Regions from separate parts of the Homo sapiens genome. Here all the other regions are linked to region 1. Evidence: fine-mapped QTL for protein levels in blood plasma. A gene starts in region 1. Each other region holds a variant in brackets. All regions are shown on one strand. Distances are from middle to middle.

Region 1 (6,700 bases):
ACCTCAGTTTTAAATAAAGAGCAAAAGGCTTAGTTCCAGAGAAAGAAATCAGTGAAGTGGAGGATTTGATGTCGTTAGTATTACTATCATTGTTTCTATTATAATTATTTTAGTTTTGCTTTGGTTTGATGTCTGCCAGAAGCCAAGCAGTGGACGTGTGGCTCCATTTCAGCACCAGGACACTTGAACAGCACCATTGTGAGTCTTCTAACCACTCTGTGGCTCCTAGTTAAATTTATGCTTACCCTCTGGCACTTTTCACAGAGGGTCCTTTCAGTCAAAACCAGACAAATTATAGAAAAACAGAAAGCAAGGTAATAAGAACATGTCCTGAATCAATGTATAATAGTCTCAGTGATGCTTTTTCCTGGAATGGAAAGTAAATTACATACTGAAAACATGAAATGCAGTATTAAGGTACTGAAGATAGGCAGGTAAATAAATTTCTTCATCTTTAAATACAATTATAATCCAAGAAACATTGATCATAAGAAAACTCTAACATTGGATAGCTATCCATTTTTAATGCATTTGAGTCAGATAATTAGATTAAAATATTTTTGATAGATTACCTAGTTGGAATCCTGAAGTCTACATTATTTCCCAACTTGTAAGCCACCTGCAATGTAGCTGATCCCACTACTCTCTGGATAGCTCTTCTAGATGCTGCTTTATCTACCTGGAACTGAGAGATCAGATCAAACCCTATAGAATGGGAATACAAAATGAAAAGTCTAAAATGAGATTGGTTTTATTTCTTTCCACAACTTTCCCAAATAAAAAAAAAAATCAGGTTTATAGAAAGCATGCATTTTCAATAGGGTACATTGCTACTCACCTGGTAAGTCATCTTGGCCAATCCTGATCTTTGGACAGAGTTCATTTCCACCATTAGAATTGGAATTGACAGGGAATCCTGCAAAAGAGATAGCATGTCATTCTACTTCATCCACTCTAACTTAAAGTATAATAATAATAAAATAAAATAAAATAATAATAATAATAATAAAATTTAGAACCAGAAAATAGCAATTGACCACAAAAAAAAGATTTCAGGATGTATCAATAATAATAAATATTTAAAATTCAATATTATACCAGCTTGCTTAGAGGTAAAGTGTTTGGCTTTACCTCCATGCCTCTACGATTATAATCTGTCCACCTGCAACTCATCCTGGAAGGGGTGGATGCAAGGCACAAAGTTGCTCTAATAATCTGGCTGGGAAAATGTTCGTTTTGAAGAGGTTAGGCATTTGTTCCTTTTGAAACCAAAGCTGAATGGTGTCCTGAATGGCACAGGGTCAGAAATCTGTTTGGAAAATTCCTGGTGGTTTGGGCTAGAAAATGTTCCTTAAACACCACAAATTTTAGGATTCCAGTGAGATTCCAGAGCCAACCTTGGTCCAGTTCAGTGGGGCTTCTGGAGAGTAGAGTTCTTAGGAATCTTTGTCAGATATAGGGGCCTGGGGAAGTCTTGAGATTCACTAATCCTAAATAAAATATAGAGGATGGATTTGATTTCATAAATTCGTTCTAAGAGATCAAATAAAAGTCCCGACTAGATTAATCCTAACATCTTAGAACTGGGAAGAGTAAAAAGAAGAAGAAAATAATCATGAGAAGGATTAAATCCTCAATTTGATAAGAAATCATAGAATGGAATTGTGTTCTCCTTACACAAATGGAAGGTCAAAGGGAAGAGAGATTTTTCACCACCACAGAAGGCTTCTTGGAAATATCCAACCTCAGTGCCTTGCTAAGATTCATCTGACAACAGAGACTCTCTAGACTTCAAAAAAAGTATTATTCAGTTACAAAGCATAGGCCCGGCGCTGTGGCTCACGCCTGTAATCCCAGCACTTTGGGAGGCTGAGGCAGGTAGATCACCTGAGGTCAGGTGTTCAAGACCAGCCTGACCAACATGGTGAAAGCCCGTCTCTACTAAAAATATAAAAAATTAGCCAGGCATGCTGGCACATGCCTGTAGTCCCAGCTACTTCGGAGGCTGAGGCAGAAGAATCACTTGAACCTGGGAGGCGGAGGTTGCAGTGAGCCGAGATTGTGTCATTGCATTCCAGCCTAGGTGACAGAGTGAGACTTCATCTCAAAAAAATAAAAATATAAATATAAAAAAGCATGGGCCTAACCATAATGGTACATCAAACATGCTCTTTATACTCTCCTCACCCCAAATTGTTGAGGTCCATCCATCCATCAGTCTATTTATTCATTCATCCATGTATTCACCCAACATTTACCAATCACCATCTGTACTAGGCACTGCACTAGGCACTGCAGCTCACAGATTGGCCTTCCTACCAACTGTGATTACTGACAGGACTTACTTTCCATACCCAGCATTGACCATGGAAAACCAGAACCTAATGTATCCCTGTGCCCCAAAGCTGGATTGAAGAGTGAGGGTGTGAAGGACTATGAATGCCTCACTCAGTCTTCAGTCAGCCACAGCCCTGCCTGATCATTTCTGGGAATAAGTGATCTTTGAAAGTCTAGAAACTATGGCCCTTACTGGGGCGACGCTTGACAGCTGCAGATGCCCAGGGTTCCAGGAAACTGCACACAAAGAAGAAAACTGGAATTTTCCTGAAGAAGAGAGAAGAAAAATGACTGAAACAGGAGTCCCCGCAGATGGAAAACACTTCCATATTTTCAAACCTAGTAAACCTAATTAATGTAAGGTGATCAAATCACAGTATAGTTTTTTTTTCATTTCTTTTTTTTTTTTTTTTTTTTTTTGAGACGGAGTCTCGCTCTGTCACCCAGGCTGGAGTGCAATGGCGCGATCTCGGCTCTTTGCAACCTCCACCTCCTGGGTTCAAACGATTCTCCTGCCTCAGCCTCCTGAGTAACTGGGATTACAGGCACGTGCCACCACACCCAGTTACTTTTTCTATTTTTAGTGGAGACAGGGTTTCACCATGGTGGTCAGTCTGGTCTTGAACTCCTGACCTCGTGATTCGCCCGCCTCGGCCTCCCAAAGTGCTGGGATTACAAGCATAAGCCACCGCACCCAGCCTTCATTTTTACTTTGAAACCCTACTGAGAGATGTAAGGAACTCATGTTTCCAGACCCCACTGTCGTTGTTGTTTTATTGATCTCACCTTCTCGGTATCTACCTATCTCACTGTTTTGGTACCTATTTCTTTGTCTCTGGTTTCTTTCACCTTTGATTTCCTTCCTCTCTTTTTCTGTGGCCGTCACTTTCTCTCCCTTCCTCTGTCTGTCTTCGGTTTTTTGTGTCTGTCTTCGGTTTCTCACGCTTGCCCTCTTGTCTTACTCTCTCATCCGTCTCTCTTTCTGTCTCTCACCTTGAGGCTCACCTACTCTCATCTTACCACTGCTGCAAAAATACAGACCCTTGGTTCTGAGGACCCCCAGCTCCATCTCCCCACCACTCTTTCCAGGGTTATTGTCTTACCAGCAGGTCTTCATTTTCCCAGTTGATTTTCTTTGTTTGCCAACAGTCCCTATGAAGAAGGGGTTGGAAGGGAGTCACTGTCCCCTCACGACCCCTTCACTGTTACCCTAGGACTATGTGTTCTGGGCCCAGCCTTGGTCCCTCCTGCCCCCGGTGAGGGCTAAAAGCAAAGGGAGAGAACCAGAGGCATCTCGTGACACTTTAAACTGAAGCAAAGGAAAGGGGTGGGGAGAAGCAGCGCTCTGAGCCCAGGCCTAGGGGTGTGTCCTCAAAGCTAACAAGGTTATACTGAAGGAGGGATTTACAGGGGAAAGTTTGCTGAAAAGAAAAAAATAAAATCAGGATGTGGGGAAATTCACCAGAAAGATCCAGGCAAGGTGCTATAGGAACACAGTAGATGCTTTTAGATCTGCTATAGGAGTACAATGGCAGCTTTCAGAACTGCTATAGGAATACAGTGGAAGCTTTCAGAGGGCTGAGGTTCCAGTAAAAATGTGCCCACTGGGAGGCAGAGGTGTGGAAACTCGTGGGAGCCTTGGTGCCCGATCAACCTAAGTTTCAATCCCTGTTTATTCTGAAGCTTACTAGCTGTGTGTCCTTGAGAGAGTTACTTCACCTTTCTGTAACTAGATGCCCTAACTGTAAAACAGATTGAAAATGCTTACATTAAAACAATGGTTTTGAGAATTAAATGAGGTATCAAAGGCAGAGGGTCTAACACCCAACAATCATTATTTGTCATCGTCTTCATAGCTAACGCTTCATTATGCACCTCCGTCTGTTGAAAATGCTCAAAGCTTAATGCCATTTAATTCTCACAACAACATTATAAGGTAAGACTGAAGTTACCCTTATTCTCCAAATAAGAAAGTTGAGGAAGCAGAAAATGAAGTAACTTTTTCAAAGTGCCATGCCTATTACTAAATACACATTCCCTCTCTCTACCTCATGGATAGAAATCCTGATAAAATGTAACATCAAGCCCCCTACTTGTTGTTTATTCTTAAACTCTGAGACTACCAGAGTTGAGCAGAGGACACTGTATCTGGAAAGAAGCAACATATTATCCTCCGTTAACAAGGTGAGAGCAAATTACAAGGAGCACAAACCTAGAGAGAGGCATGTTATCAGCATCGCTACCACACATGCCATGCCGTCTCTCCAGAACCTGAGCACCTAAAGAGAATTCCCTATAGCCCCCACATCACCCCCGTTACCACCCACTCAGCATGGCCAACCTCTGGCCTTGTCTTGAGGGACACGGGTGGTTACTCCAAAAACCAAGACTCTAAAGGTCAGAAGATCCAATGATCTCAAAAATCACAGTACAAGCAAAGTAATTTTTAGGTGAACTTTTTTTTTTTAAGAGACAGGGTCTCAGGTCTCGCTCTGTCCCCCAAGCTGGAGTACAGTGGCATAATCATAGCTCACTACAGCCTTGAACTTCTGGGCTCAGGGGATTCTCCCACCTCAGCCTCCTGAGTAACTGGGATGATAGTCATGCACCACTGCACCTGGCTTCTTGAAATTTTTAAATTTCGTTTTCTAATTGATTTAATTTTTATTTAATTACAAAACAATAGCGTTGCTTCTTATTTTTCATTTGTTTATTTCTTTTCCAAAAAAGTCCTTTCAGTTTCTGCCTCCCCCAGCTCACTGATGAAATGTAAATCAGGCAAACTTAATATCCATGCTTTTGCCCTTTTATTTTCTACTCATAGCCCACCTGTTGGAGTCCTGTCTCTCTTTCCCAGAGGGACACCCATTTCCTCATGCTGTTTGGGGCTTTCTACAAGTCCCTGTCATTTGCCTTCTGTCTATCAAAATTCCCATTCCCTAGTGCAGCCATCCTGGCTCTGTGACAGAACTACAAATGACCAGATCTTAGCTTATTTGTTTAAGTCAGTCAGGGCTCATGAGAAAGAAGCGGTCTATTAACCTCAGAGGAGAAACTGCAGCTGGGGACCTTCCTGACATCCTGAAGTCACAGGAGGTAAGCCAGCCAGAGATTCACAGGGGAAAAGGCATTTTCCAAAGGGACTGTCCATTGAAGCTATTTATTTGCATGATTGATCCTCTCATATTACTTACTCTGGTAAGAAAGGAGAGAGGGATTTTTCATTATAATGAAGTGTTTGGGAAATCCTTTCATTGCTTTAGAGATCTCAATTCCGCATTTGCCCCTCTCCTTCCCACTGTAATGAATCCTCTTCAAGTAGAATTTGAAATCAAGTGAGGGTGCCTTTTAATTAAAAATGAAAGGATAGAGAGAAAAATAGGTTTGCTTATAGGTGGTGTGGCTTTTTTCTAGCTTGGCAGTTTTATTTAAGATGGTAGGAGCAAGCAAGAGCTATTTTAAGAAAGAAAGTAGGCTGGGCACAGTGGCTCACGCCTGTAATCCCAGCACTTTGGGAGGCCAAGGTGGGTAGATCACCTGAGGTCAGGAGTTCGAGACCAGCCTGGCCAACATGGTGAAACCCCATCTCTACTAAAATACAAAAATTAGCCAGGCCTGGTGGCACGCGCCTGTAGTCCCAGCTACTCGGGAGGCTGAGGCAGGAGAATCGTTTGAACCCAGGAGGCGGAAGTTGCAGTGAGCCGAGATCACACCACCGCACTCCAGCCTGGGTGACAGAGTGAGACTCCATCTCAAAAATAATAATACTAATAAAAAGAAAGAAAGTAAATCCAGGCCAGGCAGGGTGGCTCATGCCTGTAGTCCCAGCACTTTGGGAGGACAAAGGCAGGCGGATGACTTGCACTCAGGAATTGGAGACAAGCCTGGGCATCATGGTGAAACCCCATCTCTACAAAAAATACAAAAATTAGCCGGGCACAGTGATGCACACCTCCAGTCCCAGCTACTCAGGAGGCTGAGGCAGGAGGATCTCTTGGGCCTAAGGAGCTTGAGGCTGTAGTGAGCAGTGATTGCACTACTGCACTCCAGCCTAGGCAAGACAGTGAGGCCCTATGTCAAAAAAAAAAGAAAAGAAAAAACAAAAAACAAAAAAGAAAGTCGATCCAGAGAGAACAAAGATATATACAATATTATTTAAGGAAATTTTTTTTCCTCCCTCCACTCCCATTTTCTATTAATCTTGTTTCCTAACGCGACATTAGAATCTCACAGACAGCAGTGCAAATGCCACACTATTCTGGTCTGGGTCAGTTGCACCCTAAGGTCATAGACGCATAAGCTTTTTCACCCTTAGCATTATTTCCTCACCTTACCTAACAGTTTGGTTCTGAAAAACCATGTA
Region 2 (6,700 bases), 1.9 Mb after region 1:
GTGATAATTACCAGACATGGGGAAGGGTGTGTTGAGGGGAGAGGGATGGAAAAGAGAGGCTGCTCAATGGGTACAAACTTACAGTTAGATAGAAGGAATAAGATCTAATGTTTGATAGTAGAGTAAGTATACTATAGTTAACAACAATATATTTCATATTTCAGAATAGCTAGAAGAGAGGACTTAAAATGTTCCCAACATATAGAAACAATAAATACGTGAGATAATGGATATCTTAAATACCCTGACTTGGTCATTACATATGCTATGGGTGTAACAAAATAGTACATGTACCTCATAATTATGTATAAATATTATGTGTTAATAAAAATATACAGAATCAATTATGAGCAAAGTAATTTTGAAACCGCAATTCTGTATTCATCTAAACTATCAACTTCAAAGTTCTCAGAAAACCTGCATTTTATTCTCGTTCTGAGAATGTTATTTAAGGATATATGCACCCAAGAAAACTGAATAATAATCATGTAGTCAAGACAAATAATAAACAAGAAATAGTAGAACTAACCCAGAAATTCAATGCAAGGAAGTCCCTGAATGACATGTGCAAAAAGAAGTTTGTTCAGATTAAAACTGGAGGTCATTTCCAGGAGGCTCCAATAAGAAAGTCTGTATTAAGAAGAAGGTCATGGATTCCAAGAAATATCCAATGACTAATGAATGAGTTACATGACATCATAGACTTGTTAAAGAAAGGCTGTGTCTTCTTTCAACAATAAAAAGGGGCAATTAAAAATTGATAAAAAATAAACTTAAAAAAATCCTTGTCCAAATGTGAAGCAAGAAAAAATATGATGTAATTTAAGTAACTGATACAGCCAATTGGGCCATAAACTTAACTACATTTTTCTCTGAGTGCCTGACAGTGCATCTATAGAAAAGGAAATTTAACCCTTGCACATTATTGCCATTTTCTTGGTTCTAGGGTATTTAGATGTAATGATATTGTAAAAGTTGCTTATTGGTTTTCAATTTTTAGAATAAACCCTTTTTTTCATTTAATACTTAAAAATGTCAACACAATTGAATATGAATACTGTGTCTGCATGAAAATAAAGGTAAAACTGACAGATATGGGAGTTGAAATGCTCTGGAGAGGGCAGAGGTGGAGGGATAGGCAGGAATATGAATAGTCTTATGTAAAATATTGAAGAGTTAAAAGATTGTGTTCAGATTTTAGGACAAGAAATAGAGGATTAAGTATGTTTAAATATAGAATTGTAGAAAGATAAAACTATTGGCTTCTGAAACCAAAATGATGTAAATAAAGTGAGCATCTTGTCTTTAATCAGTTTTAACAATAGGTAATATTTTAAAATTAGAAACCAGTAGATAATATTACAAATAAAGCAGTCAACATATAGAGACAAATTATTTTAAAATTAGGATGTTTTCCATTAGAACGACTAAGAAAATATCTAAAAATAAGGTTGGGAAGTAGAATTGATACTGTGGGAAGAAGGGATATGAGGAGAAATCAATTACTATAGTTATGCATGGGAAGCTCTTATTTATTTTAATTTTTATCATATGCATGCATTAATTTGATATCCTTTAAAATAAGAAAATAAAAAATTCTATCTAATATTTCTTTTATTAAATTGCAAGTAACCAATTTTGGTGTCTTCTGGGGCCTTCCATAATTGGTATTTTAGCAATCAGAACATCAAAGAGCAGTGGGTTCACATGGAACTGTAAAAGCCTTGAGTTCTCTTTTTATACTAGTTTCTCTTTCCTTTCTCTTCATATATTAATTTTTCATTGAGCTTCCACTATATGACAGGCACTTACCAGGTTTGGGGAGTATATTGCTTAGAGCATAGTCCCTGACCTCAGTGGCCCTCTCAAAAGAGTCCACCTGATTTCTTTTGTGCTTTTCCCTTTTATCTACATCTGCCCTGGGCCCTTTCCCACACAAGGTGAGGAACACACTTTCAGAGACCTCTACCTCCACTTCTTAACCTTCAATGAAAGGCTTTCTGTAGTTTCTTCTTTAATTACTCCAAAAGAGGAAAGAAATTGCCATAGGGAAACATTTGGACAATTGGACAGGTTGACATTTAGCACTAATGCTCAACAGTTTTACCTGGCCTGACTTTTTCTGGTCTTATGAAGGATAGAGATGAGAATAGGCATAAAACAGAAGAGAGACTACTGTCTGCCATTGATGAGGGAAGGATAAACAATTCTCCCTCTTAACTACCGAAAAGGAGACATATGACTTGGGGCATTAGATGCTTCAGTTTAATGCCTTAGAGAAAGTCTGAGAACTAATTTCTTCTTACTGTGGATATGGAGTGGACATTAGCCGTTTTAATCATCTGTGCAATTTAAATCTTGAGAAGAGATTGAAAGGACACAATTGTGTGTGTGTGTGTGTGTGTGTGTGTGTGTGTGTGTGTGTGGTCTGAGCTAACATGCCAATTTCTTATTTCTAAGAATATGCATTAAGAAAAATTTGGAAATCATGGTGAGAGGCTGGATTTTCAGTTTCAATTTCTGCCTAATATATAAACGACCAAAAAAAGTCTCCTTGATTCTAAAACAGGAGTTATGACGAAACATAAGTTCTATAAAAAGGAAAGAAATTAAGTTGGTAAATCTAACATGATTATACCCAATAATATTTCTTCCAAATTAGTCCATGGCTAGAAATATTAGTCATTTAGTTGCATTTGAAAGAAATTTCTATTCTTGAATCAGGAGAAACTAAATTAACATCAGGGCTACATTTTCAAAAATAATCATACAAATTTTATGTGTAATATATGCTTACAACTTTAATATAGAACTTTTAAAAAGATGTGTAACTAAAGGTCATTTTAAGGGGAAACATTTACGCTTCAAAGTTCATTTAGAAAAAGATTTGATATTGAAGATTTCAGTATCACCTGTTTTATCTCAGTAAGTTGTTCTTTGGTATCCTTTTAAAATGCAGAATCATACTGCAGTGTTTTTGACCCATTTTATCCAGTGAATGAAAAGGTTGTCCTTATTTTGGTTCAATTTAACAGAATAACAGAAATCTCAGACCTGGAAGAGGGTTCAGAAGCAAACAAAAATCTCTCCTTTCACACACTGTTGATCAGAGAAGGAAACATGGGTATTGAGATCTGCCGAATTTCTTGCCTTTGAAACCCTTTATTATATGCAGATGGAAGAGCTTGAAACTCATCTTGTACCCTCTGAGGACAAGCATTTACTCAGTCCTTCTACTTATTCTGTCTGCAGTCTGGGCTCAACCCTAACAATCTAAATTTTAACATATTCCTGAGTCCACATTCCAGAGTTGTGCCTTGTTTTGGTTATTAGATCCATTTCCCTAGATCTTGTGACCAAATCTGATTCTGTTGCCCAAGTCTTCAGAACTGAAGCTTTTGCTTGCCGTCACCAGTCCCTGTCCAGGAGTTAGATAGAAGCTGGATCCCTAGATACTGACTGATGTCAACTACTGTATTGGAAATCCAGATACTACCTTCC[G/A]TATCATACTTATTCATACCTCGTGGGGCATTTCTGATTCTTACTGCTATTCTAGGTTTATTGTATTTAGCCATCTTCTTTGTATGTCTTGTTTTAACTACTGAGCTAAACTTGTGCAATTGTGTCTTTTTTAAAAGCACATGTTTCATCCCAAAGGGCAGATCTAATTTTAATTCCAGTAAACCCTTCTGAGGCTGCTGTGTACCACATGAGATAATAATTGTATTAGTTTCCAAGGGTTACCATAACAGGATACTGCAGACTGGGTGTCCTAAACAACAGGAATTTATTTTCTCATAGTTCTGGAGGCTGGAAGTCTGAGATCAGGGTGTTGGCAGGGTTGGTTCCTTTGGAGGAACCTGGGGAAGGATCTGTTCCAGGCCTTTCTCCCTGGTTTATGGATGACTGACTTTTCTCTGTATCTTCTCATGATCTTCTCTCTCTGCATGTTGTGTCCAAATTTCCTCTTCTTGTAAGGATACCAGTCATACTGGATTAGGAACCTCCCTAATGGCCTCATTTTGGTTTAATTGCATCTTTAAAGACTCTGTCTCCAAATATAGTTACAGTCGGAGGTAATAGGGGTTAGGACATCAACAGATGAGTTTGGAGGGGGACATAATTCAACTCAATGATAATATTCATAGGAGGAAAGAGACCAAGTCCTGTAGATGTTTGTGTACGTACATGATAAATACTGATTTTGGCATTTGTCTCCATGGTTGTCTATGAAAAACATGATCATGAAGAACCTTATTGAGCAGTTGCTTTATGAAGAGGGTTTAATATCCCAGATCATGAGGACATAAATAAGTTTTAGGCATAGCCAGAGACTGATAACCCAGGACATGTTACTTAACCCCTAAGTCTCAAGTTCAATCGTTTTAGAACCTGGAAATAATAATTGCACATACCGCATGGAGTAGTTGTAAAGATTAAATGAGATTATTCATGGCTCTGTGTGCCTTGTACCTGATACATAGCAAGTACTCCATAAATATTCTTTCTTTCTTTTTTTATTTTTTATTTTTTGAGACGGAGTCTCCCTCTGTCGCCAGGCCGGAGTGTGGTGGTGCGATCCCGACTCACTGCATGCTCCGTCTCCTAGGTTCACGCCATTCTCCTGCTTCAGCCTTCCGAGTAGCTGGGATTACAGGTGCCTGCCACCACATTTGGCTAATTTTTTGTATTTTTAATAGAGGCGGGGTTTCACCGTGTTAGCCAGGATGGTCTCGATCTCCTGACCCTGTGATCCGCCCACCTCAGCCTCCCAAAGTGCTGGGATTACAGGCATGAGCCACCGCGCCTGGCCCCATAAATATTATTTCTATGGCACCAAATAGGATGCATAGATAATATATTTTACAGTAGTGAGGAAGGAAGCTTGAATGCCGACGTTTAATATTAGAGCTGGGGTAGATTTTGGGCAGAAAGAACCAATGTGTCATTCTAGTGAGGGAGACTGGCATGAAGAAGGAAAGACAAGCATACACACTGTTCTAGGAAGAATAAGCTTATAGACCTGTAGAGAGAAAAGAGCCCAGAGGTTACAGGTTGAGGGAACAGGTTATCCTAGTTCTGTCAAGAACTGGGTTACCTTGGGTAACAGAAGGAGAGGGTTGGATTAGATCAGTGATCCTAAAATTTTTATGTACTTTTAAAATTATCTGAGGAGCATTTAAAAATATGTGCTGGAGTAGCACCAAAAACTAATCTGGTTTAGTCAATGTGGAGCAGTGCCCCAAATTTATTTTAATGTGTAGTTGAATAAGTTCAGTGCACGTTGCAATCACTTGAGGGAGGAGATTTTTGAAAAACCTGCTAGTATTCAGGTCCCAAGCCCAGAGATTTTGATTTTAGTGTTATGGGTTGGGGCCTGAGTATTGTTATTGGCAAATCTCAAACCTGACCCTTCATAAATTATGAAGTGCTAGTCCTCCCATGAGAATTTTTTTTTGGTATCATAAGATGAGCTTCCAATAAAAAGTTGAATATTAATTTGAAGACACATTTGACTGGGAAAGTATCCAAAATGATTTAACTTATGTTTGGGGAATAAAATACAGAGTTATATGAATCCAGGTATGTTTTGGAACTTCTTAACCTTCACTTTCTGACTGACTAGCAGGTGTGAATTCTGCCTGGGATAGCTCTGTAGTGCTTGGGAGCACATAAATGAGGGAGGGATTAAGGAACAGAAGAGTGACTTTGCATATATTTGGAACAGAAACTGAAAGTCCTGTCTACTTTGAGATAATAAATGGGAAAGTATTGCTCAGAGTCTTGAGGATCATACAAAGGTAGTAATTGTAACTGTCCTAACACTTTGTCATTCCAGTCGGTGCGGTGGTGAAACTCCTGTAGATTAGGTTATCATTATATACAGAATGAAATCCAAAAAACTTCAGCCATGCCCTTCAATCTTCACAGTGTCTTGTGTCTTGACACAATCACCTCTAGAACTCTGTTCTTCCTGACTGATTAGCATTTATTTCCTGTATTTCACACTTACCATACACTTTTCCATCTCCATTATTTGGCAGTGTTCTGCCTTTTTAAAATGTCCTCTATCTCTAGCTGTGATTTAAAACTAAAATCAAATTTCGCCTTCTCCTCAATCGTTCTCTTTGAATACCCAATTTTATTCTTAATGTTTGCATGTGCTTTCCTAAGGGAAATTAATTATAAGCATAAACGGAGAAATCATCTTTCTACATTTATATATTGTTTTATGGTTACTAAAGTGATAGTTTATAGTTACATACATGGAATTATAGTTGTTGGATTAAGTTGTACATTGTTGAATGTTTCTTTTTTAATTTATAGAAGTAATTAGAAAGTAAGAAACTAATAAATTTTATAATTTCATAGGGAGAAAAGATGTATATAAAAGTACTGCTGAGGATGATTGGGTTTGAAAAAGGGTAACTTTTCTTGTCTTCTAATTCTTGGCATATCTGTTAAGTTTATTGATTTAATGGCCATGCATTTGGGAAAAATTACTTAGGTCAATAAGTACCTTTTCATTGGATGACAAGACATTATTTACTTTGTTTCTTGTGTAATTACAGAAACTTCTCCTAATTACAGAGAAGTAATTACTTCTGTGTTCTCAGGATTCTGTTTCTTTAATTATTTTAGTAATTTGGACATTAATTTTTGAACTACAAAGAGGTAACTGTAATATTCCTACCATTAG
Region 3 (6,700 bases), 500 kb after region 1:
TTTAAAACAAGCATGAAACAAACCCTACTATATCAAAGAAGTTCTAAATTGTCTTACCGCTGTGCCTCTGTCTTAATTTTTTAACAGATATTCTTTAGTGTCATCAGCATATAACCTCAATGAGAATATGAATTTACTGTTTATTATATTTCAGTAGCACGTAGATATTGTAATTACTGAATATTTCTACCTTTTTCAGATGATTACTCAAACTAATAAGGATGAGTCAAAAATTGCCATTTTTTAAAAAAGTAAACTTATCAAAACTTTGGGCTGTGTTTTAGAAAGAAAAGGAAAAAAAAAAGGAAGAGAAAAAGAGAGAAAAGGAGCCAGAAAAGCCGGCAAAACCACTTACAGCTGAAAAGGTAAAATTCTTTTTTTAAAAATAATCTATTAGGATTACCATTTTATTTGTATACTTATATATTAATGACTTTCTGGATATTTATAATATGTAAATAATCATTATTTTCAACAAGCAATTGTTGAGTGAATGCTGTGTGCTCAGCATGTCCTTCTAGCTTGTCTCTGTATTATTTGTAATCAGTTATCTATATGTGTGGGTATAAACCCTCTGAGTTCCTTGGAGACAGGTATTCTCCTGTGAATGACATAGAGAATGGTGTTTTTAGCTTTCATACACAATCAGACTTAGAAGACTTAGAATTTTAGAGAATGAAGAGAACATAAATGAAAGGGACTTCAGAAAAGACTCTGCTTAAGGTTAGCCTTTGAGCTACCTCTTAAAACATAGGTAGGATTAAGGTGGAAAACGGGTACATGTTTAAGAGAACAGCCTGAAGAATGTATGAAAATTGTAAATAAAATGTTTAGAAAAATAGTGAATTTGAAGAAAGGGATTTGTCTATGTATAGAAACTAGTGAAAAATAACACCAGAATGGTAGATTGAACTCAAATTGTAGATGTTTATTCTTTTGGGGGGAGGAAAGGCTGTGAGCAGCACTTCAAATTCTAAAGCACATGGTACTCCTAATTCAGAAGGGTTTTTTTGAAAATTATTTTAGCAGTGATATGCAGGATAGATGTGATTAGGCGAACTACAGCTAGTGAGAATGTTGTACTTTGTAAAGGGATTGGTTAAATATTTATGGTGGCTTGGCTTTGAATGCATTTCATCATAAGAGTATGGAATCATACTAAGAGAATTGTCAGTAAAGGGAGCATCCTTGATTTTAGTTGTTGAAATTTTAAAAATCAACTTTATTGAGGCATAAATTGGATACTGCAAAGTACATCCATTTAAAGTACATAATAGAAGTACTGTATATAAGAAAGAAGATCCATTCTGCTGTTGAACATTTGGATTATATACAGGTTTTAACTATTCTAAATAATGCTGCTTTGAAACTTTTGTATATGGAATCTAAGCTTGTATGTTTTTAGGGTGACTTAGTAGTGGAATTTCTGCATCATAAAGTATGTGCATCTTGAAGTTTACTGGATAATGTCAAACTTTTTTCCAAAGTGTATACCAAAGGTACTCTTACCATCAAAGTAATTTCACATTCTATGTAACACATAGTGTTGTCAGGGATTTTAGCATTTGCAATATGGTGAGTATGTAATGGTGTCTCATTAAATTTTTACTGTTCATTTCCTTGATTACAGAATGAGGCCCAGTGCCTTTTCATGTCTTTTTTGCCTTCTTTTTTTCACTATAGCTTCATTTATTTTACATTTAAAAAATGAAAATAATACATGTGAAAATAAGGCACGTGTTTTTTAAAAAGTGAAACTTTAAATGGGGTGTGATGGTGCACCTCTGTAGTCCCCAGCTACTTGGGAGGCTGAGGTGGGAGGATCACTTGAACCCAGGAGTTTGAGGCTGCAGTGTGCTATGATCATACCTGTGAATAGCCACTGCACTCCAGCATGGGTAACACAGCAAGACACCCTTTAAAAAAAAAATACAGAAGGGAATAAAAAACAAAAATCTTCCTTTTCATAGGCCTGGTTCAGGTCTTTTGCCTATTTTTCTGTTGGATTGCCTGCTTTTCCTCATTGATTTGTAGCTCTCTATACACATATACATAATGTATGGGAGATACTAGTCCTTTTTCAGTTAAGTGTTTGCAAATACCTTATTTCTTCATTGTGTCTAATTTTGTTTCTGTTTTCATTTTAATTCTTTTATTATTATACTTTAAGTTCTAGGGTATATGTGCACAGTGTGCCGGTTTGTTACACAGGTATACATGTGCCATGTTGGTTTGCTGCACCCATCAACTTGTCATTTACATTAGGTATATCTCCTAATGCTGTCCCTCCCCCAGCCCCCCACCCCCTGACAGGCCCTGGTGTGTGATGTTCCCTGCCCTGTGTCCAAGTGATCTTACTGTTCAATTCCCACCTATGAGTGAGAACATGTGGTGTTTGACTTTCTGTCCTTGTGATAGTTTGCTGAGAATGATGGTTTCCAGCTTCATCCATGTCCCTGTGAAGGACATGAACTCGTCCTTTTGTTATGACTGTGTAGTATTCCATGGTGTATATGTGCCACATTTTCTTAATCCAGTCTATCATTGATGGACATTTGGGTTGGTTCCAAGTCTTTGCTATTGTGAATAGTGCCACAATAAACATAAGTGTGCATGTGTCTTTATAGTAGCATGATTTATAATCCTTTGGGTATATACTCAGTAATGGGATGGCTGGGTCAAATGGTATTTCTAGTTCTAGATCCTTGGGGAATTGCCACACTGTCTTCCACAATAGTTGAACTAATTTATACTACCACCAACAGTGTAAAAGTGTTCTTGTTTCTCCACATCCTCTCCAACATCTGTTGCTTCCTGACTTTTTTAATGATCGCGATTCTACCTGGCGTGAGATGGTATCTCATCGTGGTTTTGATTTGCATTTGTCTGATGACCAGTGATGGTGAGCATTTTTTCATATATCTGTTGGCTGCATAAATGTCTTCTTTTGAGAAGTGTCTGTTCATATCCTTTGCCCACTTTTTGATGTGGTTTTTTTTTCTTGTAAGTTTGTTTAAGTTCTTTGTAGATTCTGGATATTAGCCCTTTGTCAGATGAGTAAATTGCAAAAATTTTCTCCCATTCTTTAGGTTGCCTGTTCATGCTGATGGTAGTTTCTTTTGCCATGCAGAAGCTTTTTAGTTTAATTAGATTCCGTTTGTCATTTTTGGCTTTTGTTGCCATTGCTTTTGGTGTTTTAATCATGAAGTCCTTGCCCATGCCTGTGTCCTGAATGGTATTGCCTAGGTTTTCTTCTAGAGTTTTTATGGTTTTAGGTCTTACATTTAAATATTTAATCCATCTTGAATTAATTTGCATATGAAGTGTAAGAAGGGGATCCAGTTTCAGCTTTCTACATATGGCTAGCCAGTTTTCCCAGCACCATTTATTAAATAGGGAATCGTTTCTCCATTTCTTGTTTTTGTCAAGTTTGTCAAAGATCAGATGGTTGTAGATGTGTGGTGTTATTTCTGAGGCTTCTGTTCTGTTCCATTGGTCT[ATC/A]TCTCTGTTTTGGTACCAGCAACATGCTGTTTTGGTTACTGTAGCCTTGTAGTATAGTTTGAAGTCAGGTAGCGTGATGTCTCCAGCTTTGTTCTTTTTGCTTAGGATTGACTTGGCAATGCGGGCTCTTTTTTGGTTCCATATGAACTTTAAAGTAGTTTTTTCCAATTCTGTGAAGAAAGTCATTGGTAGCTTGATGAAGATGGCATTAAATCTATAAATTACCTTGGGCAGTATGGCCATTTTCACGATATTAATTCTTCGTATCTATGAGCATGGAATGTTCTTCCATTTGTTTGTGTCCTCTTTTATTTCATTGAGCAGTGGTTTGTAGTTCTCCTTGACGAGGTCCTTTACATCCCTTGTAAGTTGGATTCCTAGGTATTTTATTCTCTTTGTAGCAGTTGTGAATGGGAATTCACTCATGATTTGGCTCTCTGTCATTGTTGTATTGGAATGCTTGTGATTTTTACACATTGATTTTGTATCCTGAAACTTTGCTGAAGTTGCTTATCAGCTTAAGGAGATTTTAGGCTGAGACGATGGGGTTTTCTGGATATATAATCATGTCATCTGCAAACAGGGAGAATTTGACTTCCTCTTTTCCTAATTGAGTACCCTTTATTTTTTTCTGTTGCCTGATTGCTCTGGCCAGAACTTCCAACACTGTTGAATAGGAGTGGTGAGAGAGGGCATCCTTGTCTTGTTCCGGTTTTCAAAGGAAATGCTTCCAGTTTTTGCCCATTCAGTATGATATTGGCTGTGGGTTTGTCATAAATAGCTCTTATTATTTTGAGATATGTTTCATCAATATCTAGTTTATTGAGAGTTTTTAGCATGAAGGGCTGTTGAATTTTGTTGAAGGCCTTTTCTGCATCTATTGAGATAATCATGTGGTTTTTGTCTTTGGTTCTGTTTATGTGATGGATCACGTTTATCGATTTGCGTATGTTGAACCAGCCTTGCATCCCAGGGATGAAGCCCACTTGATCGTGGTGGATAAGCTTTTCGATGTGCTGCTGGATTCGGTTTGCCAGTATTTTATTGAGGATTTTCGCATCGATGTTCATCAGGGATATTGGTCTAAAATTCTCTTTTTTTGTTGTGTCTCTGCCAGGCTTTAGTATCAGGATGATTCTGGCCTCATAAAATGAGTTAGGGAGGATTCCCTCTTTTTCTATTGATTGGAATAGTTTCAGAAGGAATGGTACTAGCTCCTCGTTGTACCTCTGTTAGAATTTGGCTGTGAGTCTGTCTGGTCCTGGACTTTTTTTGGTTGGTAGGCTATTATTGCCTCAATTTCAGAGTCTGTTATTGGTCTATTCAGAGATTCAACTTATTCCTGGTTTAGTCTTGGGAGGGTGTATGTGTCCAGCAATTTATCATTTTCTAGATTTTCTAGTTTATTTGCGTAGAGGTGTTTGTCGTATTCTCTGATGGTAGTTTGTATTTCTGTGGGATCAGTGGTGATACCCCTTTATCATTTTTTATTGCGTCTATTTGATTCTTTTCTCTTTTCTTCTTTATTAGTCTTGCTAGCAGTCTATTTTGTTGATCTTTTCAAAAAACCACTCCTGGATTCATTGATTTTTTTGAAGGTTTTTTTGTGTCTCTATTTCCTTCAGTTCTGCTCTGATCTTAGTTATTTCTTGCCTTCTACTAGCTTTTGAATTTGTTTGCTCTTGCTTCTGTGGTTCTTTTAATTGTGATGTTAGGGTGTCAATTTTAGACCTTTCCTACTTTCTCTTGTGGGCATTTAGTGCTATAAATTTCCCTCTACACACTGCTTTAAATGTGTCCCAGATATTCTGGTACGTTCTATCTTTGTTCTCATTGGTTTCAAAGAACATCGTTATTTCTGCCTTCATTTCTTTACTCAGTAGTCATTCAGGAGCAGGTTGTTCAGTTTCCATGTAGATGTGCAGTTTTGAATGAGTTTCTTAATCCTGAGTCCTAATTTGATTGTACTGTGTCCTGAGAGACAGTTTGTTGTGATTTCTGTTCTTTTACGTTTGCTGAGGAGTGTTTTACTTCCAATTATGTGTCAATTTTAGAATAAGTGTGATGTGCTGAGAAGAATGTATATTCTGTTGATTTGGGGTGGAGAGTTCTGTAGATGTCTTATTAGGTCCACTTGGTGCAGAGATGAGTTCAAGTCCTGGATATCTTTGTTAACCTTCTGTCTCGTTGATCTGTCTGACATTGACAGTGGGGTGTTAAAGTCTCCCATTATTGTTTTGTGAGAGCCTAAGTCTCTTTGTAGGTCTCTAAGGACTTGCTTTATGAATCTGGGTGCTCCTGTATTGGGTGCATATATATTTAGGATAGTTAGCTCTTATTGAATTGATCCCTTTACCGTTATGTAATGGCTTTCTTTGTCTCTTTTGATCTTTGTTCGTTTGAAGTCTGTTTTATCAGAGACTAGGATTGCAACCCCTGTTTTTTTTTTTTTTTAACTTTCCATTTGCCTGGTAGGTCTTCCTCCATCCCTTTATTTTGAGCCTATGTGTGTCTCTGCAGGTGAGATGGGTCTCCTGAATACAGCACGCTGATGGTGATGGGTTTTGACTCTATCCAGTTTGCCAGTCTGTGTCTTTTAATTGGGGCATTTAGCCCATTTACGTTTAAGTTTAATATTGTTATGTGTGAATGAGATCCTGTCATTATGATGTTCGCTGGTTATTTTGACCTTTAATTGATGCAGTTTCTTCATAGCATCGATGGTCTTTCCAATTTGGCCTGTTTTTGCATTGGCTGGTACCAGTTGTTCCTTTCCATGTTTAGTGCTTCCTTCAGGAGCTCTTGTAAGGCAGGCCTGGTGGTGACAAAATCTCTCAGCATTTGCTTGTCTGTAAAGTATTTTATTTCTCCTTCACTTATGAAGCTTAGTTTGGCTGGATATGAAATTCTGGGTTGAAAATTCTTTTCTTTAAGAATGTTGTATATTGACCCCCACTCTCTTCTGGCCTATAGTGTTTCTGCTGAGAGATCTGCTGTTAGTCTGATGGACTTCCCTTTGTGGGTAACCTGACCTTTCTCTCTGACTGTCCTTAACACTTTTTTTTTTTTTCATTTCAGCCTTGGTGAATATGACAATTATGTGTCTTGGGTTGCTCTTCTTGAAGAGTATCTTTGTGGTGTTCTGTGTTTTTCCTGAATTTGAATGTTGGCCTGTCTTGCTAGGTTGGGTACGTTCTCC
Region 4 (6,700 bases), 26 kb before region 1:
CATTGAATACTTAGATATGCTGTTGTTATGCAAGAAGTGTTTTCTATCATGGCAGGTAAAGAGGGAATTGTCTGCTGGGAAATACCACCTGCAAATAGAATATATATTTTCTACTGTACATTCAAACTTCTCTAAAATTTTTCCACTCATAGTAGAAATGCTTACCATACCAGATGTCATCAACTTATTTCTCATGTATATTATGCAGAAAACTGCACATGTACCCTAAAACTTAAAGTATAATAATAAATAAATAAATAAATAAATAAATAAATAAAAAGATTTCACAATGGCAGAATTTTACCTAAAGATAGGAAATTTTCAATTCTGTAGCTTTACATTTACTTACTGGAAATCCACGCGATCCAGGCACACCAGGTTCTCCCTAAAAATAAAAATAGTTTCATTGTACTGACCTTTCATATCATGAATATGTAAATGTGAAAACTGCATAAATATTGAAAGCATTAAAACACCCCATTATGGTGTTTTTTTTTTTTAAATTTCCAACTTTTATTTTAAGTTCAGGGGTACATGTGCAGGATGTGCAGGTTTGTTACATAGGTAAACATGTTCCATGGTAGTTTGCTGCACAGATCATCCCATCACCCAGCTATTAAGCCTGGCATCCACTAGCTATTCTTCCTGATGCTCTCCCTCCTCCCACCCCCTATTTTCTGACAGGCCCCTGTGTGTGTTGTTCCCCTTCATGTGTCCATGTGTTCTTTTTATTCAGCTCCCACTTATAAGTGAGAACATGCAGTATTTGGTTTTCTGTTCCTGCGTTAGTTTGCTGAAAATAATGGCTTCCAGCTCCATCCACGTCCCTGCAAAGGACATGATCTTGTTCCTTTTTATGGCTGCATAGTATTCCACATCATGGTGTTTTTAAACACAATTTTAGTTGAACGAGTGCATTTTAGATACTTCATAACTTAATGTTAGTTGGCTTGCAAACACTGCAATAAAATTATACTTCAGCATTTTCGTACTAGCAATTAATGCCAGATGGCTAACTTACTTTTTGTCCCTTTGACCCAATGGAGCCAGGGGATCCATCAGGTCCTGTTAATCCCTAATAGAGCAAGACAATGATGTTAGAACTATCATAACATCCTTAGGCAAACCACTAAGTAGAAAACTTTCATTTTATTTATTAATTGTCTACAGGATGGTTACATAAGTATGATGCAAATATTTATAAAGAAATACCTTACTATAGTCTTACTCAAAAGTAAAGATTAACAGAAGATCTGCCTGTTGTGATTATTTCTTCTTGATAAGTTGTATCATACTCCTAACTTCCTGCTAACTGCATTGTTTATCACAGGGTTCAATAATTCAGTGTTTTTTGTCTCTGCTTTGGAAAAAAATGCAACATAGCAATTACAATGTTGTAATAGCTAAGACTGGTGGGTCTTGGTTCTGCCATTTACTCAGGTTTATTTACCTCCTTTACTTCATTTATGAAACAAAAATACTATGTATCTCTCTACAGGACAATAATCTCTTTCTACATGACAACAATGTCTTGGAAGTCAATAAAATATTTCCTCAATAAGAATTAAACACAAACAATCTCATTATTGCCTTATAGCCACTAACAGCCCCCTAGCCATCTTCTAGCAATGACAATTGCTTATCAAAGAATATTAATTCTTAAAGTAGAAACATTTGAAAGCATGCATGTTTCTACATTATTTTTCTTAGTAAAAATAGCTGTGATTAAGTATATATGTTCATGTATGCCACTCGGTATGTAAAATTTAAGCCTATTATTATAAACCACATTTATAATTATCATATTTAATACTAAAGCAGTTATTAAATACATATTCTAAACATTCTCATTTTCCCTACTACTACTTACTTTATCATCATCCTCAATATAAAACACGTATTAAAGAATGATAATATCACATATATACAAGAATTTCCATATTTGGTAAAGATACATTTCTATTTTTAATTTTTTTCTTTGCTCTTTGACACTTTCAGATGCTGTCATTTACAATGTAATCTTGAAAGTATACCTTCCTAAAGATAAATATGATATATATGTGTGTACATATACATACATGCCTATATAAGTATCTTATAAACCCTTTCTATTATCAAGATTTTGAAGAAGACCCAAACAATATTGACAGAGGGATCTCTTGAAAAATATGAAAGCCCTACTTAAAAATGGATCACCAAAATTCATATTTAGTCTGTCATGGTCTGAATAAACATCCATAAAATTCCTTCACATAATTCATATAGAAAACTAGTTCAGTGGCCACCATTTTTACATTTCTCTACCTTAATTAATTTTCCTAACAATGTCACAGAGTGAATCAAATAGAAAAAAATGAGTTGAAATGTTAATTACTGGAAATTTACCAAAGAAGAAAAATATTAAACACACACAAAAGAACTTTTGACAGACTGCCTTTGATTTTCAATAGCCCTAGTCTAATTACAACACCGTAATTTGGGAACAAACCTCAACATGATTAGTTGCTAAGCACCTATGGTAATGAAATGTTTGCTTTGGCATTTCACAAACAAACTATACATCCAGGAGCACTCTCTGGATGCACATATGGCATGTAAATTTTATAAACCTCTGGGCATATTTAACTAACTGATCCTCTAATTCTCACTTAATGCATAAACCCTCCAAGACCAATTCTGTTCAATTTTCATACACACAGTCAACTAACACTCTTCAACCTGTGACTGGAATAACTGACAAGATTGGAGGACAGTAACTATAAAGCAGAACCAAGTAAATAGTTGGATAACCTGGAAGCTGTTTTTCGGTTACTTCATATTAAAAATATCCTCCATAAGACATGCTAAATTATGTCAATCACTGGAAAGTTCTTTGAACTAAGTTGAAAATGGATTCTGGTGTCAGATGTTACAGTAACACCTGTTATGAAATAACTATGCAGAAAACCGTAAGCTCCATGAGGACAAGAGTCATATGTCCATTACAGTCCTAACATGTTGTCCTGGCATCTAACCACTCAAGATGTGATTACTGCCTACAATAAGTTTAAGGAGGCCTTCCAGGTGGCAGGATATTACACTTGTTCCTCCACAACATCTTTATATTCAGCTCAAATCCTGATCCTACTACTTAGCAGCTGTGGAATCATGGGCAAGGTCCCTAACTGCACAGTGTTCTAGACGCTGTTCCTCATTGAGAAAAGGTCCTACAAACAAACAAACCAAATCTAGGTATTAACCACAGCACTGTATTTCTTATCCTCATCACATTTCTTCAATGCCTGAATATTTGCACCTACACTGATCTTTTAGAATAATTTCTTAATAACTCACAATTCTAGTTATAAAGCATCTGCCACAGATAATAGTTGTATACATTCAGAAAATACATAGCACCTAACCTCTGCCTGTAAAAATTATCACAGTTTAGCTATAATTCTTATACTTTATTCTAATTCCTCTTCTGCTTATCTCATATGGGTGTTATAAGAAAGAATAAAATACTGTTTTTAAAGGTCTCTCTGAGCATGTCACAACAAATAGTACATATAAAAATATCTCTATTAATATAATTGCTGAGAACAGCACAGTTGTCCTAAGGTTAGGACCAAGTTCTGTCTTATCTAATTTTACATGTCCATAAGCCAAAAAAAAAAAATCAACTTAACCTGAAAAAAGGGCAGATTTGAGTTGAAATATACAGACCACACACATAATACATACAT[A/G]ATTTTCAAAATCCAGTTTGCAGTAAGACCTCCTAATTCTTATTTCAAAGAAATAAAAGAAGAAAACATTACCAGAGCAGAAAAAAGTGCCTTCATATGAATATTCATACAGACAAACTTCTATACATTATAACATTGAAGCTGACTGTGTTCTGAACTTCATGTTACTGTTTGGCAGAGAAAACCAGTCCTCAATGGAGATTTCCTTCCAGTATTCTGACAGCTCAGCTGGTAGGACTCAAGGCTTACTTCTACAAGCATGACTGCTATGACTCATTTACATTTTCTGCCAAAAATCCATTCAACATAGGATAATGAACACTGAACAGGGTTCCTTTCTGATTCTTTCAACCATCATCCAATTAACCATTTTTTAACATTATCAAAAAATAAGCCTTGTAATGACCCAAAGAGCAGAAGACGAAATGATTCGAGGTTTAAGGTCCTACCAGCACACTCAGGTTCACCTACCAAGAAAGGACTGTTGAAGCTCTCCTACTTACTTAGCTCCCCTATGGCCAAGGACAAACAAACAGCAAATTCTGACCCAGTTACTGCATTTCATTATTCTCAAAGATATCCATTCTCAATTTAGAATAAAAGATTTTTTTAATGTCAAATCAGTCAAAGAGTGGAATAAGAAAACTTTACAGTTCCAGATGCCTCATGTGGCTTAAATTCAAAAGTCAGGGAATATAAAACAAACCAATATTTATAAGTAATTATAAAATATCTATTACAAATGGCTGTTATTATCCATATCATTCTTCTTGATCGGTGACTTAGGTACTAAAAATTCACTATCACTTTTTCTCTCTGTTCTCGCTATTCTCTCTCATCTATTAAGATCGTCACTTGTATTCGCATGAGGCAGAATTGCCTGGGGAGTCTAAAAATCAAGAAATCTGGACTATTTTGTTATCTTAGCTACTAAATAGCTCTCTGAGGAAACCACTTGTCTTCATAATTATTGTTTCCTTATTTATGGAAAGTAATATTAGACTAATCTACTTTCCAGGTTATTGTTGGTTAAAAGAAATGTTTGTGGCAGTGCTTGAGGAAAAAGTTCTGTGTAAATGCAAATAGTATAGTTGATTTTTCCCCAAGATCTAGAAAATGCCTAAAATACTGGCAGATACAGGGATTTCCTTTTTTCTCCCCTTTCCTCTCTTTCTCTTTTGCTTTCCTCTCCTGTCTCAGCAGACTAAATGTGCTCATCATTTTTTCCTTGAGGTCAAAGTTCAATAATTTAAGGCAGCTTATTCTTTTATGTCTTTTAATATTTGAAATCTGGTTTATGCTGCACTGTGGGTCTGCAAATATAGACAAAGAAAAATTTACTTGAAATTGCTTTCTATGTTGTACTTCTAAAAATTTCAAAGCACTTTCATTTGTTTATCCAAAGTTTCTGTTAGAGTGGGGAAATTACTTTATAAGCAAAACCAAGGATTGTCTTTATGACACCATGGTATAAGGTAAAGAGAAGAATTTGTTGAGTAAGCTACAAAAGCACTATTAAATTGGGGGACAGATAAGTCCAGCTTTCTGTCTGACATTATATTGCAGTTTAATTAATAGCAAGACAAGGATTCAGATGACCCATTTACGCTTCAAATACCAAAATAAATTTTTGAAATACAAAATAAATATTTTATTTACCAAAATAATTTTTTTAATTTAGTCAGAAATTTTCTTTTCATCCAAAACTAAAGGCTGATTGAAATTTCAAAGGAATATAGAAATAAATTCAAGCTACATTAGGCTACCAGTTTGTTCAGTAGCCTTGAATTTGTCAGACTCTTTTTATTATGGTATGACAATTTCGATTAATTATAGATGTTCCAAAGAGTTTGATTGCCAACAAGTTATATTATTTCAGTTCATATTACATTAATACAAACGCTTGTTTGAGATTCAGTTTTTACTATCTAAATATTAGTCCTTAGGTGCCTCCTGTACTGCTAATTTGCATACACAGAAAGTTCAAACTAGGGGCTTTGAAATGTAAACCAAGATCTATTTCCTAAAATACTATGGGTGAAACCCCATCTCTACTAAAAATACAAAACTTAGCAGGGCATGGTGGAGGGCACCTGTAATCCCAGCTACTCGGGAAGCTGGAGGCTGAGGCAGGAGAATCGCTTGAACCCGGGAGGCAGAGGTTGCAGTGAGCCGAGATCGTGCCATTGCACTCCAGCCTGGGCAACAAGAGCGAAACTTCGTCTCAAAAAAAAAAAAAAAAAAAAAACACATACACATACAAAAACGCTAAATAGTATAGACACAGTATAAACAAACACATTCATTATGGGAATCCCGACAAAGAAAGCACACCTTAATAACAGTAAAAATCCAGTTATTTATTTTTCTTTCAAAATGAAGGATATGTCTTAAACTGTAGTCAAAAATTCTTGGAAATCATAATTATAGGTTTTCGAGTGCTTTCTTTCATTTAGAAAAGTCTTTAGTTTTTGGAAAACACATAAAGTGGTAACTTGAAGAGTAACTTGAGTGATGCACCATGGTATGCTAAGAACAGACGCCATTTCTTACTTCACTTCATATTCCAGGGACAAAATCAAGGACTGGTCTGTAGTGGGTCATTATTACATATTGTTAGAATGCATGGAAAGAGGAGAAGCTGAGAATCCTGAAGTCATTTTACTCTGAAGAAGTATTATTTAGTGTTAGGTTTACCATATAAGTCAGCATTTGATGGAGATGTGGGTAAACTGGAGAAAGCCTGCTGGTTCTCAATCTTCATACAGTCCTAGCCAGCTCATTTCTGCCAGTAATGCCAGCCAGAAAAACTCCATGGAAAGACGAAAATCTAGTTTTGAATTTCTAAATTCCCCGCACATCCCCACTCACTTCAAGTGCATCTTTCTTTTTCACATTCCTTGGGATTTAGGAGTGCTCTGGCCCTTTGCCTACCTGCAGGATCTTTTTCTAAATTAATGCAGGGAGTGCCGGTG
Region 5 (5,000 bases), 1.4 Mb before region 1:
GCATCAAATCCACAGTTATGTGACTGATAAAATACAAATCTTGCCTCCTTCTCATATTTTCCGTGTGTTGCAGAGTGATCTCTCTCAAATGCCAACCTATTTATTAAGTCTTGTATCTGATTTTCCACCTTCAATATATGCCTTTTTTCCACATTTAGTACAATGCTGGCATGTAGTAGATGCCCAGTTTGTAGATATTGAGTAGCTGAACTATATTCAATTCAGTATATATTCCCTGAATATACATTGGCATGCAAGGCAGTGTACTCACGAGTACACGGATGACTAAGACACATTCTTTCTCTTCTTGTAGTTTTGCATTTAGTAAGTGTGGATATTTGGGGATAAGTCATGACAAAAATCCTAATAAAAGCCAACCATTCAAGCCAAAGAGAGTCAGTCGGGAACAAGTGGCTATGGGAATTTAGTCTCTGACACCAGAAATCATAGCCTCTCAGAAATTACAGTTCACTGTGGAACACTTTAGTGTTTTGGAAGGTAGCTCTGTCTTTCAATGGCTAGCTTTTAATCAGCTTTTTGAAATAAATGAATAAAACACCCTTTGTTTCATTTATGTGTGTGCTTCAGTTTAAAGTAGTAAAAACAATGATCATATTCATCTGTTCCATACAAGAGTCGACAAAATATTGGATACATATTTAAGTATTACCATAATTATAGTTTTTATTTCATTAGGCAACTTACATCGAGATTTTTATGTACACAGGTCTGTGACTATAATAATCCATTCCTAATTGCTTATGTGGAATCTATGAATCCTTCCTTGTACAGTATTTTGTTCTCCTAGGTGTTGATAAACTAGAGCCGTTAGCAAGCTTTTATGTTCTCTTAAAGGTTATTTGACTTTGATTTAGAAATGTTACATTCCCATTCATTTCATGAATATTCTCTAATGCTTTTTCTAAACCTGGGACATAATATGGATCTTACTTCTACAGAAAATTATGGAGATTATCAGTAATTGCTCTATTACAACCACAAGGAAAAATATATTTAGATTGTAGAGTCCCAAGGTATTTCAAAAACATACTTTGAAGTAGTGACTCAATATTGGTAATGTATGTAGTTTGCATACAAATAATAAGTATTATACTTTCATGTATAACATTTAAACCACAGGATACTGAAGTTCTCATTTCCTGTTGGGAATTTTCCATGTGAATATAGGACTGTTCCTCTATCTGAAGAGCTAGAGATTTCCCTTTTATCATATTGAGCATACAATGAAATGATCATGTTTTGATTTTTTTAATTATCATCTCAAAGGTTTTAAAAGAATTATATGCTTCCTTTACATTGCATTATCTGATTCTATCCAGTGATAATGTCCTATATAGTTATCTCTCTAAATTGAAGGTGACTGAATGGGATGATTTTCTTTTTTGTAGTGGCTCCTAGACTCCTCCCTTAAGTCCTGGCATGCAAGTCCTCAATCATAACTGATACCAATTATTTCAGGGTATTCTCTGTGGCAGTACAGATTTCCTCCTCTTCCCTACTTTTATTATAAACAGTTTATACAACACCTAAAAAGCCCTTCTGAAATAATGTGATATGAAAGAGTCCCTTAATGGTTATTTCCCTGGAAGACCAACTAGGTAAGCACATAGTCCCATTTACTACCACTTCTATTACTAGTTTTTTTTTTGTTTTGTTTTGTTTTTTGAGACAGAGTCTTGGTCTGTCGCCCAGGCTGGAGTGCAGTGGTGCGATCTCTGCTTACTGCAAGCTCTGCTTCCTGGGTTCACGCCATTCTCCTGCCTCAGCCTCCGGAGTAGCTGGGACTACAGGTGCCCGCCACAATTACCAGCTAATTTTTTTGTATTTTTAGTAGAGACAGGGTTTCACTGTGTTAGCCAGGATGGTCTAGCTAAAGGATTGTAAATACACCAATCAGCACCCTGTCTATCTCAAGGTTTGTAAAGGCACCAATCAGTGCTCTGTGTCTAATCTGGTGAGGACTTGGAGAACTTTTGTCTAGCTAGAGGATTGTAAATGCACCAATTAGCACCCTGTCAAAACGGACCAATCAGCGCTCTGTAAAATGGACCAATCAGCTCTCTGTAAAATGGACCAACCAGCTCTCTGTAAAATGGGCCAATCAGCAGGATGTGGGTGGGGTCAGATAAGGGAATAAAAGCAGGCTGCAGCACCAGCTGCGGCAATCAGGTTGCGTCTCCTTCCACGTTGTAGGAGCTTTGTTTATTTGCTCTTTGCAATAAATCTTGTTGCTTCTCGCTCATTGGGTCTGTACTGCCTTTATGAGCTGTAACACTCACCACAAAGGTCTGCAGCTTCACTCTTGAGGTCAGCGAGACCACGAACTCACTGGGAGGAGTGAACAACTCTGGACTGGAGGAATGAACAACTCCAGAGGCACTGCCTTAAAAGCTGTAACACTCACCGCAAAGGTCTGCACCTTCACTCCTGAAGCCAGCGAGACCACGAACCCACCAGAAGGAAGAAACTCTGAACATGTTTGAACATGAGAAGGAACAAACGCCGGACACGTCACCTTTATAGAACTGTAACACTCACCGCCAGGGTCTGCGGCTTCATTCTTGAAGTCGGTGAGACAAAGAACCCACCAATTCTGGACACAGAAATACTGAGGCAAGATAGTTACAACTATATGTATCTCATCAATTTAATTAAAATTGGAATTAATAAGGCTTGAACTTAATAATTTAAGGGTACTTCCAAGGTTGCTGTCCTGTCAATGGATATTTGTTTGATGGTGTGAACAAGAAAGCAGAATTAAAAGATATTTTAAAAAATGATTTGACTAGAATTCAGAGTGCTTTGTTTGGCACTAAATGTGACACCTGAGCTCCTTCTCTCTCTTGCGAATGAGATCATGGCTTTGGTTTCCATGATTTCCAAGGTTCATTTATTTTTTAAATCGACTTACTTTTAGATTCAATATAGGCTTTAACATATACTCTTTCACTTCCTTAGTAGGTACTTTATGAGCACTTCGTTCATGTAAGGCACAGTGCCA[G/A]GCACGGGGATGTGTCAGGAGAGTGAAGAGCTCCTTTGCTCATGGGCTCAGGGTTTGGGGGAGACAAACATTACATAATTACACAAATAAATAGAAACTGTGATAAGCGCTGCAAAGACATCATGGAGGGTGTCAGGAGATAAAATAATAGATTGACCTAAATTGGATTGAGAGTGAGAACATGTCTCTCAGAGAGTAAGAGCTTTAGGCTGAAACCCGGGGAGTGAGAAAAAATTAGTTGAAAAATAAAGCATAAGTTAGTATTTCAGGCAGAGGAAAAAGTTAACAGAAAACCCCTGAGACATGAAATCACCCAGAGTTTAGGACATGGTCTGAGATGAGGTTGGAGACAGTGGGCAGAAACTACATCATGGGAAGCCTGAGGTCAGAGTAGGGGCTTTTATCCTAGATACAACGAAAATCTGGCAGTGAAAGAGATAGAGAAAAACAGGTAGGTGTGGGGAGGAGTTGTGCGCAATACACAAAACATAAGATGCTGAATGGGTGAGAGGTTTGGCTTTCTTCATTTTTGTGTTTTGTAAAAATTTGGCCTTTTTGGAAAGGTCAGATTCTTGGGAGATAATTTCAGACAACAGTACATGTGGAATTTGAGCATCTTGAAAATGTTTTTTAAAAGGCTTCCTATACCTCCTAGAAGTACTCATACATCAATTTGAAGATCACTGATATAAAACCCAGTACCTAATCTTAGGAAGTTGGTAATATAGGTAGAGAGATAAGTCACAAGCATATGAAAAGTTAATCATAAAATATTTAAATAACAGTTCAATACAATAATAAACTATAATAAGCAAAGTGTATGAAATTGCCATGTTTAATTGCTTAATTAATTGTGCAGAAAATGATTGGTCAGAGGTCCCCAGTGGTCAGGGCATTTTTTGGGGATCTTATAAAACTGGGAGAATTTGAATGGTCTGAAGGAAGGATTTGTGATATTTCAAGACTAACAGTAATATTTATTGAGGGAGAAAATTGAAAGATGTTTTTGAGTGCCTACAATTTGGTGAAATGATTAGAAGATAGTTTGATTACAAAGAGTATGGAATGCGACCTTCTCCAGGTTAATTTTTTTAATTAAAAATTTTAAATAATATTAATTGAACATATTATGTATTTATGGGGTACAATGTGATGTTTTAACATATGTTTACATTTGTGGAATGATTAAGTCAAACTAATTGACGAAAATCTATCACCACACATACTTGTTTCTTTGTGGTGAAAACATTTAAAATCCTTTTAGTAGTTTTGAAATAGACAGTATATATTTATCACATGCTCAGTAAAATGGCGAGGCACAGAAGGACAAATGCTGCATGATCTCACTTGTATGTAGATTCTTAAAGTGTTGAACTCATGGAAGTAGAGTACAATGGTGGCTACCAGAAGCCAGGAGTAGGGGATTGGATACAGAAAGGGGAGATATTGATCAAAGATACAAAATTTCAGTTAGCCTTCAGAAATTGTACTACACTTTGTGGGTCCTGGGTATCCACTGTAGACTTTGGAGTAGGGAAATACTAGGATAAAATTGACATGTTAAACGTATCCAGGGAAAACCTGACAAAGGGATTTGAAAGAGGAAATGGTCAAATTTAGAGGCTTAGAGTCAAAATCCTAGACTAAGGCAATAAATAGCTTATGTAATGGATATGAAAATGGAAAGAAGGAAGGAATATTTTTGAAACGTCCAGTGAAAATAAAACAACACAAAACAAAAAGACAAGATTGGGTAATTATTTGGATATAGACCCTCAAGGAAAAGTGAAGAGTCCTAGAAAACAATTTTGTGCCCTATAAACGTTAGGAATGGTTTTTGTGATTATTTAATCAATTTGCTTGTTACAGTAATAGTAGTGTTAGCAGTGGAAATCTCAGAACCAGGAGCTGAAAGTACCTGTATCTCCACTGTTGTCAAATTCTGGTATTTAGACTTGCTTGTACTTGCAAGCTGGTG

Which allele goes with the higher level. Alleles are on the strand shown, and positions count from the first base shown. The strength of an association depends on the size of the effect and on how common the allele is.
In carriers of allele G in region 2, the plasma level of the protein whose gene starts at base 3,614 in region 1 tends to be lower than with A alone (weak association).
As copies of A replace ATC in region 3, the plasma level of the protein whose gene starts at base 3,614 in region 1 goes up (moderate association).
For the plasma level of the protein whose gene starts at base 3,614 in region 1, G is the high allele of the variant in region 4 and A is the other (moderate association).
For the plasma level of the protein whose gene starts at base 3,614 in region 1, allele G in region 5 goes with a lower level than allele A (weak association).

What was found. PIP is the posterior inclusion probability: the model's chance that the variant is causal. Protein levels are from antibody-based Olink assays in UK Biobank. Linkage for the fine-mapping came from a reference panel and not from the study's own genotypes, which makes the PIPs less certain.
Region 2: its variant is fine-mapped to the plasma level of the COL9A1 protein (UK Biobank, PIP above 0.99).
Region 3: its variant is fine-mapped to the plasma level of the COL9A1 protein (UK Biobank, PIP above 0.99).
Region 4: its variant is fine-mapped to the plasma level of the COL9A1 protein (UK Biobank, PIP above 0.99).
Region 5: its variant is fine-mapped to the plasma level of the COL9A1 protein (UK Biobank, PIP above 0.99).

The regions. Positions count from the first base shown.
Region 1 is chr6:70,299,471-70,306,170 of GRCh38, forward strand. It overlaps COL9A1 (collagen type IX alpha 1 chain), which reads right to left and starts at 3,614. Exons shown (of 38, transcript NM_001851.6): 1 at 3,441-3,614; 2 at 2,531-2,604; 3 at 839-916; 4 at 573-705. The coding sequence starts at 3,454.
Region 2 is chr6:72,198,474-72,205,173 of GRCh38, forward strand. The region is part of intron 6 of RIMS1 (regulating synaptic membrane exocytosis 1); the gene reads left to right. Among named protein-coding and RNA genes, the nearest start is that of RIMS1, 320 kb to the left of the region's middle. The variant G/A (reference allele first, on the strand shown) is at 3,502.
Region 3 is chr6:70,798,373-70,805,072 of GRCh38, forward strand. SMAP1 (small ArfGAP 1) reads left to right here. Exons shown (of 11, transcript NM_001044305.3): 6 at 285-365. Among named protein-coding and RNA genes, the nearest start is that of SMAP1, 130 kb to the left of the region's middle. The variant ATC/A (reference allele first, on the strand shown) is at 3,500.
Region 4 is chr6:70,273,698-70,280,397 of GRCh38, forward strand. COL9A1 (collagen type IX alpha 1 chain) reads right to left here. Exons shown (of 38, transcript NM_001851.6): 11 at 1,022-1,075; 12 at 350-385. Among named protein-coding and RNA genes, the nearest start is that of COL9A1, 26 kb to the right of the region's middle. The variant A/G (reference allele first, on the strand shown) is at 3,726.
Region 5 is chr6:68,881,226-68,886,225 of GRCh38, forward strand. The region is part of intron 3 of ADGRB3 (adhesion G protein-coupled receptor B3); the gene reads left to right. Among named protein-coding and RNA genes, the nearest start is that of ADGRB3, 250 kb to the left of the region's middle. The variant G/A (reference allele first, on the strand shown) is at 3,023.